Linked DNA regions of Homo sapiens: region 2 is linked to region 1. A link means that fine-mapping ties the variant in region 1 to the expression of a gene that starts in the linked region. Tissue or cell type: nasal epithelium. Region 1 holds a variant in brackets; the other region holds the start of a gene. All regions are shown on one strand. Distances are from middle to middle.

Evidence for each region. PIP is the estimated chance that this variant, and not a neighbour inherited with it, causes the effect.
Region 2: it holds the start of RERG, and the variant in region 1 is fine-mapped to the expression of RERG in nasal epithelium (TOPMed, PIP 0.95). The same link has a PIP of 0.9 or more in prefrontal cortex.

What each region holds. Positions count from the first base shown.
Region 1 is chr12:15,148,414-15,154,134 of GRCh38, reverse strand. All of the region lies in intron 2 of RERG (RAS like estrogen regulated growth inhibitor), which reads left to right. It overlaps RERG-AS1 (RERG antisense RNA 1), which reads right to left and starts at 2,212. Exons shown (of 3, transcript NR_046559.1): 1 at 2,065-2,212. The variant T/C (reference allele first, on the strand shown) is at 3,361.
Region 2 is chr12:15,218,321-15,224,041 of GRCh38, reverse strand. It overlaps RERG (RAS like estrogen regulated growth inhibitor), which reads left to right and starts at 2,625. Exons shown (of 5, transcript NM_032918.3): 1 at 2,625-2,847. LOC124902886 reads right to left here and starts at 3,374. Exons shown (of 1, transcript XM_047429948.1): 1 at 2,064-3,374. The coding sequence starts at 2,797. The coding sequence ends at 2,480.

The DNA of each region.
Region 1 (5,721 bases):
TTTACTGCCTCATGCTTCTGGAGGCTAGAACTCCAAAATCAAGGCGTCAGAAGGATTGGTTCCTTCCAAAGTCTGTAAGGGAGGATCTGTTCCCTGCCTCTGTCCTAGCTTCTGGTAACCTCAGGCCGTCCTTGGCTTGCAGATGGTGTTCTCCTTATGTTTCCATATCATCTCTCTGTGTGTGTCTGTCTCTGTGTCCAAATTTCCCCATTTCATAAGAACATAGTCATATTTAATCACTTAGGGCTTACTCCAATGAAATCATCTTAGCTTGATCATCAACAAAGATCTTATTTTTAAATAAGGTCACATTCACAGATACTAAGATTAGGACTTCAGTGTCCTTTGAGGGGACACAATTCAACCCATAACACTATCTATCTTGAAAAATCACCAGAGAGGATAATTTATAGCCATTGGTAAAATTTATGCAAATCATACAATTTCCCTTCAGTCAATGCATTTATTCTGGGTGCCATATTTAGATGATAGGCTGCCAAAAGTAATGCACCGTGAATATTCTTTTTCTTTATATTATAAAAGCTATTCAATTACTCCTGGATTTTCCAGGAACTATGGTTCTCTAGTTCCTTATAAATCTCAATGGTATTTTTCTGAATCTTACTGCTTTCCTTTTATTTATAAATACTAGACTCTCCCACTTTAAGCAAATTTCTAAAGACTGGGGTAAAAGATCTCTTTTGTGAGCAAAGTGCATGTCTAGGGCCCTGTTATTTAAGAAATTTAAGATCATCAATTTCAAACATTCAAAGCCTATACTGCTGGTTCATATTTTTCACTATCCAGAACAGTAATCTTCACAATGGTTAGCTGTGTTCTCTAAAAGTCGCAGATAATTGTTATCACATTTAAAATCAAGCACCCATCACAACTCCCCAGTTCTTTCTTTTAGGAAAACCTAAAGAAACCTTGGATGACCTTAAGACTCTATGGAAAAGCTGGAAAAACACTGACCCAGAAAACAAATGTGTAACAAGTCACATTTTTTCCATTACTTAAGGGAAATTGTGGTGCGAATTTTTTTCTTAATCTCTCTGCTAAGTGTAAATATGTGACTCACCCGAACTACCTCATTCTTAGACCATAAATATTAGGAGTGATGACTTATAAGGGGCTCATGTTCATGTGTGGTAAGTAAATACTTGTCTGCACATATTAATTTAACAAGAAAATGGCATTTTCCTAAGTAGCATAACATCAGAAACAGTAGAGAATTTAATATAAGTAAAAAGCAGTGTTATATTTTAAGAAAATTACTATGATGAAAGAATTCATTTTTTTCAAAGAGTAATATAATAATATTAGGCTTTAATACCTAAGAACATGCATGCTAGATCTGGTTCCAATCCAAAAAAGTTCTATGAAACTTCAAATACCATGTGAAGGTTAACTTTTAAAAATACATTTCTTCAGAGCAAATTTCTATTCCTAGTCCATGCGAAACCACAGGGTGGTGCTCCAGCTGGACTGGTTTCCTCAATTCAAGTTATCCTTGTCCAGTTTCCTTCTTAGGGCACTGCTACATGAAAACCTGATGTGTTCTGTGTTCTTGCAGCAAACTCCTACTGTGTCCTATCTTGGCTCAGGCAGGACAAAATGAAGCTCTCCATCTCTAGGAGGTGGCTTGCTTCAGAGCCTTCTCTGTCCAAAACAAGAGTTTTTTCCATATTGTTTCTCTCTAGGCTTTTGAAATTAGAGGGGAAACACTATGGATAATAGCTTCAGAAAATATGAAAAGCTCACCTATTACAGCAGATGGGACTGAAGTATCAGTCCATATCTAAGGCAGGTGAATTGGTGCATTTGAAGCATTCCAAGTCAGTAGGACAGCCAGAAATATGAAATGAAAAGCACTAGTTTTCCTTAGCAATGAAATTTTGACTCCTATGACTTTGCTAATGCTGTGTTCTGCTTTCCTTTCTGCCTATTCTATTTGTACAACCTTCTGTGCCTTCCTCAGATGGCTTTCCAAAACATCTGTGGGCAATATTCCCTTCACTGAACAGCAATGGTACTTTAAGTGCAAAACAAAACAGCATTTACCTTTTGCAATTTATAGTTCCTGGGTTATTTCATGTGCCTTGTGGTTATCTCAGGAGCCCTTTATTAATCTCCGAACTGTAGGCAAGAAGGTGGTCTTGTTGTCATGGTAATAACTTCAGTACTTAGCACATGGAACGCAGCATTTATTGTAAAATACTTTTCCAATCAAATGGTTGCAGCAGTTTTAGAAGTCATAACAGTAAGGGTAGCATGCAGTTCATGAATTCCTTCATCAGGAGGAAAAGACTGACCTGATTTATAAAGGAAAAGGAAGCATAATAAAAGTGGAATTCTGTTAACCTAACCATATTAGTTCTCTTTGCTTAGAGTTAGGGGGTGTCCAATCTTTTCCAAGAAAACTTTGTATATTCTGGCAGTGCCCTCTGGTGGATGATTTACTATGATCCACTACCATTCAGTTCCTGGACATTACATTTCACCTGAAAGATTTCTACCTTTTGTTACCACTTAGCATTTTTCCCCCCATCTCAAGATGAATAGTGTTTTCTTTCAAAGTTTCTTGAATATCTACATCTACAATCTACAACAAATGCCACTGGATTGTGGTTTGTAAGGAATATCTAAGGTGAATTCCAGCAAAGTGAATATCAGTTTCTACCACTTATTACTTTCAAAGTCATTAAATTGCTAATATGGGTGCAATTTGGCTGTTGCGTGGAAACACTTGGCTTGGGTATGTTTATGTAAATGGTTCAAAGCTGTGGACTGTGTATCTGGCAAGCTGCTTCTAAGAAACAAAGGAGAAATAGGCATGTTTTCCATTTAAAAGACATGTGGTTCTTATTGACTTACCGAGATTGGTTTTTGTTTTTGCTTTGTTTTATTTTCAAAGTCAGTTTTCCACTCTAAGATTAAGTGTGTTCATTATAGAAAACGTAGAAAATACAGAGGAAAAAAATCACCCATAGTCACAACAAAACCAAGACTGATTTTGGATGTAGCCTACGGAGGTAGAATGCTCCCCTGGGGTAGATTTTAGAAACAGGCTGTAGTGGACCAAAGGGGAGCATGGCATTAAGTTTCCACAAGCTGTTTTCTGTATTTATAAAGTACAATAACAATATTGCATGTATTATGTACTTTCATTTTCTGTCTCAAATTAGGTATGGAGATTGCATAATAATAATAGCAGCCATTTATTTAGCACAGAATTTCAAAGCCTAACCCTAGAGTTGCCCTTTGCCTCCTGGTGAACAGCAGTTCAGCCCACACTCAATTCTTCCCTATAACCTCCCACATCTCTGCCAGGATTTATTCTTGTAATAGTAATAACTG[T/C]TGTTTAACAGGTCCTCATTACACAAGAGAATGCAGCGATTAATATGCAGCCTGTTTGAATTCCAATTCTGGCTTTTCCACCTAATAGCTGAGAGATCTTGGATGAGTAATTAAAGTCTCTGCTTCAGTCTCCTTCTTTGTAAAATAAAGGCCCTGCCACACAAGGTTTTTTGGAGAAAACTAAGTCCCTAGAACAGATCTGGGAACATAAATGTTAGTTATCATTGTTAACATATTACGATGATATATTAGACATGATACTAAGTTCCTTATTACGCCATTTACTCCTCATAACAATCCTATGAGTTAGATATTCTTTATCCCTGTTTCAGGTAATGAAAATGAAACAGAGAGCTCCAATGACTTGCCCAAATCACACGGCAAGTTACAATGTTGAGCCTAGATATGAGCCTACATTTGACGGTCTATAAAGTTTCAGCTCGCCATCTTGTTTTGGCTCTGATAGGTTAGCTATTATTTTGCTTGTTTGTTTAATTTGTATTGAAGTATAAAATATATTTAATATATAAAAATGCATATTACACAGTTTACACTGTGTAAATATTCCCAAATGAAAAACTCCTGAGATATCATCACTGCATCTTTACCAGATCCCATCCAAAGGTGACTACTAAGCTCCCTTCTAATATCATAGCTGTGGTCCAAAAGTGAGCAGTCTTGGCCTTGTACCTACTCTCCCTCCCCGTCCTTTCCCCCAGTAGCCTTCAGGGGGGTTCACAGACCAAAGTAGCATAGTAGGAGAACCACTGTCTATACCCTGCATATGCAAATGCATTCATCTCAGTGGGTTGTAACTCTCAGGAAGGAAGGATTCTAAGGCCATAGAGCGCAAAGGAAAGTATGACATGATCGATTAGTAATGTCTATCATAGTCACGAAACGAGGATGGTGGAGATCTGTAGGCTGGTCCTAGACACCATTTATGAACAGAAACAACTTTTCTTTAAAGTATTTTATTTTCTACCATTTCTAAATCCAGTATCCATGTGAATTGGCATGTTGGCATAATCATGCTGTTGGCTATTTAGTACAAATAGGCTAAATATTAACCTAAGAATCATCTATGTGCATGTAACTTTCTGCATTTGTCCAATAGATCTTTTGAGAGAAATTACTGGAAGTGGAATTCCTTTCATTAAAGTCTCCACCCTCTTCTATAGAAGTAGCACTTTTCCCCTCCAGTATGCAACACAGGTCACATTCTGCCATGAACTAGTATTGTTAATGAACATCTTTCTCCCCATCAGAACTGCAAAGCCCTTGAGTACTAATTCTGTCTTGTGCTTTCATGTATCATCCACCTCCCCTCCCACCAGTGCCTAGCACTGGTGTTTTCTTTGTTCATAGTAGATGTGGATACATTTTTTTGGCTTTAAATATAAAGATACATTTTACTATTAATATTTTAAAATATGTTAAGAATTAAGTATCAGAATTCAGTCTATATAAGGAAAGCCTGAGATGAAGTGATAAAAAATAGATGAAAAAGTCTTGATTTTTCAGAAAGAACAAATAAGCAAATAAACACAGCCCTGTTTTTCTCAGTCACTATTAGATATTGAACATTAAGAGTTAAAGGACTGCAGGCTGGGCGCGGTGGCTCACGCCTGTAATCCCAGCACTTTGGGAAACCGAGGCGGGCGGATTACGAGGTCAGGAGATTGAGACCATCCTTGCTAATACAGTGAAACCCCGTCTCTACTAAAGAATACAAAAAATTAGCCGGGCGTGGTGGCGGGCGCCTGTAGTCCCAGCTACTCGGGAGGCTGAGGCAGGAGAATGGCATGAACCCAGGAGGCGGAGGTTGCAGTGAGCCGAGACGGCGCCACTGCAGTCCAGCCTGGGTGACAGAGCTAGACTCTGTCTAAAAAAAAAAAAAAAAAAAAAAAAAAAAAAAAAAAAAAAACAGAGTTAAAGGACTGCAAATGAATTTAATGAAACTATTGCCCAAATGATTGATGTTCATGTACAGACCAAAATTTCAGTGCTAAATAGACATGTTAATAATGATGCTGGAATATACGAGTATTTAAAAATCTCCAAATTCCTGGGGAATTAGTAGTTGTAATAAAAGTGACTTCTTCTCATTCACTTCATGACTCCTTAATGTCTCTGCACTTGCTTGGTATCAGCGGCTTATTTAACAAGTCACTGCACATAACTTGTATTCCTTAATAATTAATACACTTAAAGTTTCCTATGCTTACATGGATAGAAATGTTTTCCCAGTGTCTTAAGTTTGATTCTTGCAACACTCATCTCTGTGTTCTTTCAGAAACAGGAGGCTCACTGTAGCTGACCAGCACTGGCATGGTCCTTCATTTGCTGTTTGTTTTTTAG
Region 2 (5,721 bases), 70 kb before region 1:
ACACACACACAATTCCAGTTTCTAACATGCTTTGTGGTTATATCAACACTTCGTCTACTTGTTTTGTGTTAGAGGTTTTAGCTGAAGCCTAAGGCCAGGCTAAGAGACTTGAATGTGACAAGGACTTCCCCTTTCCCCAGGAGAATTCTTGCCCAGCAAACATATGTCATGGAACCGTAAGTACAAAGTGTCCTCTGCCCTTCTTACTGATCCATGAGGCAGGCAGCACAAGAGAGCGTGCCTCTTTTTGCTGCTTTAGAGACAAAGGAAGCAGCCCGCAGAATATAGGATACATACGGAAGATGTAACACAGTGGGAGTCAGGCTCCAAGATAGCTACTTCATCTATCTTAGAGCAGCACATCAAGAACTGCAGATGTGTATGCAAATGCCTCCCTAGTTGAGGGAGGAATGCTGTTGTTATATGGGCTAAGCAGGAAAATGGAGAGAATCAGGTTCCATAGGCAAGTTCCAAAAGAACTACTACAAATGGGACCTGGCTTGGGCCCTCTTCGAAAACTTACTATTATTATTTTTTTCTTGAGACAGAGTCTCTTTTTGTCACCTAGGCTGGAGTGCAATGGCACGATCTTGGCTTGTTACAACCACCGCCTCTGGGGTTCAAGTGATTCTCTTGCCTCAGCCTCTGGAGTAGCTGGGATTACAGGCTCCTTCCACAACGCCTGGCTAATTTTTATATTTTTAGTAGAGATGGGGTTTCACCACGTTGGCCAGGCTGGTCTCGAACTTCTGACCTCAGGTGATCCGCCCATCTCAGCCTCCCAAAGTGTTGGGATTACAGATGCGTGCCACCACGCCTGGCTAATTTTTTGTATTTTTAGTAGAGACGCTGTCTCTACCCATGTTGCCCAGGCTGGTCAATAACTCTTATTAAATAAGAGTGGCAAAGTGGGAATTCCAACTCAAGTCTCTGTAAATAGTATATTTACAGATATAGGGTCACAGATTTTTTTTTTTTTATTAAATCTTGCCCTGAGTATAAGATTTAATGGGGGAAACAAGGTAACATGTGAAACCTGAACACCTTAATGCCACACGATTCCATGTAATTGGAATTCTGTAAGATTCTATATAATGAATCTGGGTAATTATTATCCCATCCCAGACTTCAAAGATCTTCTGCATGCTAAGACACCAAAGTCTCTCTCTTTTCCAGGCCTCTTTCTTAAATGTCGCAGCCCCATACATTCAATTTCTTACTGGATGGTCTATCCTAAATCCAGTATGTAAAAAAGCTCAAACATATCCTATCACAACTTCTTCTTTATCTTAATTCATTCAATTCAGTAGGTATTCTTTAACTACCTACTATATGCCAGGCTGTAGGTATACACACTGTATGGATGATGCTGGGAATACAGAAGTCACACATGGTACATTCCTGGCTTCTGGGAGCTCACAGATTAATGGAGAGGACTAAGGGGCAGAAATGAGTACAACACAAACACAATGATAAGATCACAGGGTCCTGTGAGATACAGAGGGAGGCATCTAATCCAGATGTATGTGGTGTGGAGGGAGGGGTACATTAGTGATCAGGAAACTCATAAACCATACAATGTTTGAGCTTTCTCAAAGAACCAGCAGGGCAGCTCCTGCTCAGCTAGGCAACTCCTCTTTTTGCCATAGATCTAGCTGTTCCATTCAGCCATTCACTCGTGGCTGCAGTGACCTTCCAGGTCAGTCTGGACTCTGGAAATTGCCTCCATGGTTACCTCCCTTCCCATTGATGACATTCTACAGATCGTTCAGTTTGCCCTAGGCCCCTGTCTGTTCTATATAACACTGGTTTTCTGGAAGCCGTTTGGTATCTTGGTAAGAATACCCAGATTTATAAGGGAAAAACAATAACATAAGTGCCTCCTGCTTCTTTGCTCAGATGTTTCAGTTTTTGGGAGATCATTTAGCCTCTCTGAAGCTCACCTCCTCATCTGTGAAAGGCTAGTAATTATAATACTAGTTCTTACATGAAGAGAGGGTGTAAAAATCAAATCAGATGAGGGATATGAAAGCAGGTCCAGCACAGCTCGCATATTAATTGTCTTTGTTAGGGTCTGAGCATAATGGAGTATGACTCCAATGCAAATCCTATAAATGCTGATCCTGTAAGGAGGACGAGAAGCTTTTGGAACTTTCTCAAATATATGAATAGAATTTCAATTGAATTCCTTGTTTGTTTTTCCTAGCATCTCTCAGTTCCCAATCCAGTCTGGATTTCATTCCAGCCATTTACTAGCCTTGCGTTACCTTCTCCTTCAGTTTCCTCTTGGGTATCATGGAGATAATTAAAGATACTTCAAAGAGATATTGCGAGGATCATTTGAAATAAGGAATAGAAAACACCACGTAGTGATGCTTTCTTAGGCAAGGTTTTGACCGAGGAAAGCCGCCCTTCGGTGGGAGCCTGGAGGCTTGGAAATAACCAGTGAAAAAGGGAAGCCCGTCTTGGGTGCAGCACGTTAAAGACCCAAGCTCGCAAGCCTGGGAGGCAGCGCGGCGGGAGGAGCCTGCCCCTGCCCCCAGTAGGGGGCGCCGAAGCGCCGCACTGCAGCATCCTGGCCGCTGAGCGCAGCGGCCTTGGCCGGGCTCAGCTCGCGTCCTGCCGCAGTCCCTCCGCCGCTAGTCGGAGCGAGCGCGAGTGAGGAGACCCCCGCCGGGCCACTGGCACTTGCTTCTGCGGCGAGTCCCACCCACGACCGCAGCCCAGCAACTCGCAAACGCAACCTGAAGCCTGGGCTGCGCAGTGTGGGAGGGCTTCGCGATCTTGGGGGACCCATTCCGAACTTGCAGAGGACCGTAGCTCTCCTGGCCTGGAGAGTGTGAACAGGTGAGTGTCACGCACGTGTCCAGGCAGCTCTTTCGGGACGACTTCCTGCAGACCCATTCCGAGCCCTGAGCGCGCTCGGCCTCTGAGTCGGTCCTCTTGGTCACCGGGTTCTCCTCCCAGGGCGGCTTTGGGGTTCGCTGCGAGGGAGATGTGAACACCAGCAGCCTATCTTGACAGGGCTCTCCTAGCTGAGAGGGAAAATGCCCTTTTGACTTAAGGCTGCATTTTCTCCCTAGCCTGAAAGCAAGTGACTTGCAGTCCACAATGGATTTGTTTATTCTTGCAAGATACCTGTTGAGTTCAGAGCAACATTAAATAGCCAAGGGGCTTATACAATTATCCTGGTTTGCTGTGGGTACTGCGTAGTGATAAGAAGAGGAAGAATTCCTAGTAATGAGACCAGGAAAACTTGATTTCAGAACCAGAGAAGGGGAGGCCAAAAAAGAAGAGAATCTCATTTCCAGGCCTAGACTAGGGTCTTTGCTTCCCTAAATAGCTACACTTGATTTTGATGAGCGCATGCAAACAGAAGTTCCAAGCATGATTACCTTATAAAGACGCTTGCTTGCCCCACCCCCAAGAGGAAGTAGAAAGCATGAACCTTGATAAATATAGCCTTGAGAATGATTTATTAGGAATGAAAACTTTCTTTAAATAAGTAAGTAAATAAGGTTACAGTTATCTAAATATCATAGGTCTAACAGAGTGTAAGCTCTTCGAAGGGAACTACTTTTATTTGTATGTGCATAGCGTGAAAGTGTGGAATAAATCAATGAATGCATCACTAATAATACAGGATTTTAGCTAGCGTTTTTCCTTTTTCCTTTAATTTATGTTTAGGGAAAAAAAAACCTACACCTTCAAACTAAATAGGTATGATTTTACCTTTAGAGTGATAGCAGCTGAGATGTTTTTGTCCTAATAAGCACCATCCACATAAAAAGTGAATGGCAAATTTCAGCCCTACTCAGAATATTTCAGCAGAACATTAGGACAAATGGATTTTCTTAGATCCACGTATGGAAGCTCTCAGATTATGAATTATTTGGAACATCAGAAACTTGGCAACAGTTTACTTATTACAACAATTTACATATTTATTTTTGTTTTCTATCTTGTCAAATGTAACTTTTCACATTTTCATGTGAGAAATAAAATGTTGAAGAACTCCTGTCAGTTTTGTGTCTTCCTTTAAGTGATTTTTCTAAACATAAAATTAGGTTGACAATAACCAGCTGTATCTTTATTAGGTTATAAATGGAAAAAATAGCCCACACAATTTCTCTTTCTTATGTGAAATTCCTATGCCTCTGGGGCCATTTGGGAGTTACTAAAAAATGTGACTTGTCATTTTTTTAAAATCACATTTGATGGCTACTTTCATGAAACATTAATCAGACAGATAATTACTTGCATTTTATATCCATGTATATGAACAGTTTTGCATGAAACAAAATTATTGTTTATACTAGCTGCAGACACTTGCGTGTTCAATGTTTCAAAGAAATACTTGCCAGCACCTCTTCTCATTTATAATTTAAATAGTTAATATATCTCCACATATTATGTTTCTGTGATGAAGCCCTGAACCTTAAAAACATAGGGCCTTTTCTTAATGAATGCATCTAAAGTGACAAATAAGGAAATCTTTTTATCTTTAGCCAAAAATATGGGACTGGACAAATTGCAGATGTTTAAGCTTCTGGTTTTTGCTAATAATGATTACTTAGACACTTTGTCATTATTGAGGATGAAGTAAACAATAGCTAATGTTAATGTTGATTTTTCCTTCCTTCAGAGGAAGCTCTGGCACTTTGAAAATCAGCAAATACAAAACCTTATTAGGTACAGGATGATAGCTTAAATACCTAAGGAAGAAAACAATTACATGATAATGTCTTTGTAGAAATACTTTTTCAGGCGGATTTTCACTTTTTAATTTCTCTCTCAAGAAGCTCTTTGTAAAAATTTATAGATGGAAAAATCTGGCAGGAACATTTAACACATTTAGATAACATATTTGTGTTTAAAACATCTTTACTGCCTTGAAAATGGAATGAATTATGCAGACTGGTGTGATTAAGATTAACACGGGTAAAAGTGCTGTGCTGTATTTAGGTTTAAGCCATTGATTGCAAATGTTCGGAATGAGGGGGTCTGCAGTCCGTGTAAAAGATGTGAGGCTTAATGTGATTGGCTGTGCTACAGTATAACCATGGTGGGCAGATTAACGATAGTGAAAATCTCAGGGAATTTACACCGGGTCAGTTTGTCAGGTCATATCTCAAAGTGGAATGCAGTGGACACCATGCTTTTAGAGTGATTAAGATGTTGAGGAGGCAATGCACATGATGAAAAAGGGAGTGAAGGTCAAAAAAACATAAACGAGAGTGTACATTCCGGGAAGAACAAGTGGACAGGCTGGGCCTCATGTTCCTAGAAAAAAGAAGCCTAGGATGGAGCAAAGGGTCCTACTAGATGCTAGGATCCTTGAACGGTTCTGAGTGAAAGAAAAAGTTGACTTGTTTTGAGTTATTTCATAGAGAGAAATGAGGACAAATGAGTAGAAGCCGCAGGGAGACAGTTTAGAGCTCAATATTAGAAAGATAGTTCCTCCTAATTGGAGAAATGAAGCAGCTTTCAGAAGTAATGAGCCCACCTTTCATACCTGGAAGTGGTAAGTCAGGCATGGAATATGGAATGATTGTTATGTCCTAAGGAAAGATTCTTGCTAGAAGAATGGCTAGAAGATTTCTTCAGATGACCCCCACTCCAGCCCCCACCACCACCAAAGCTCTTTCCAAATTTACGTTTCCATGATCCTAAGAACCTAGATGTCACTCCTAAAGCACCAAACTAAATAAGATGTGCTTA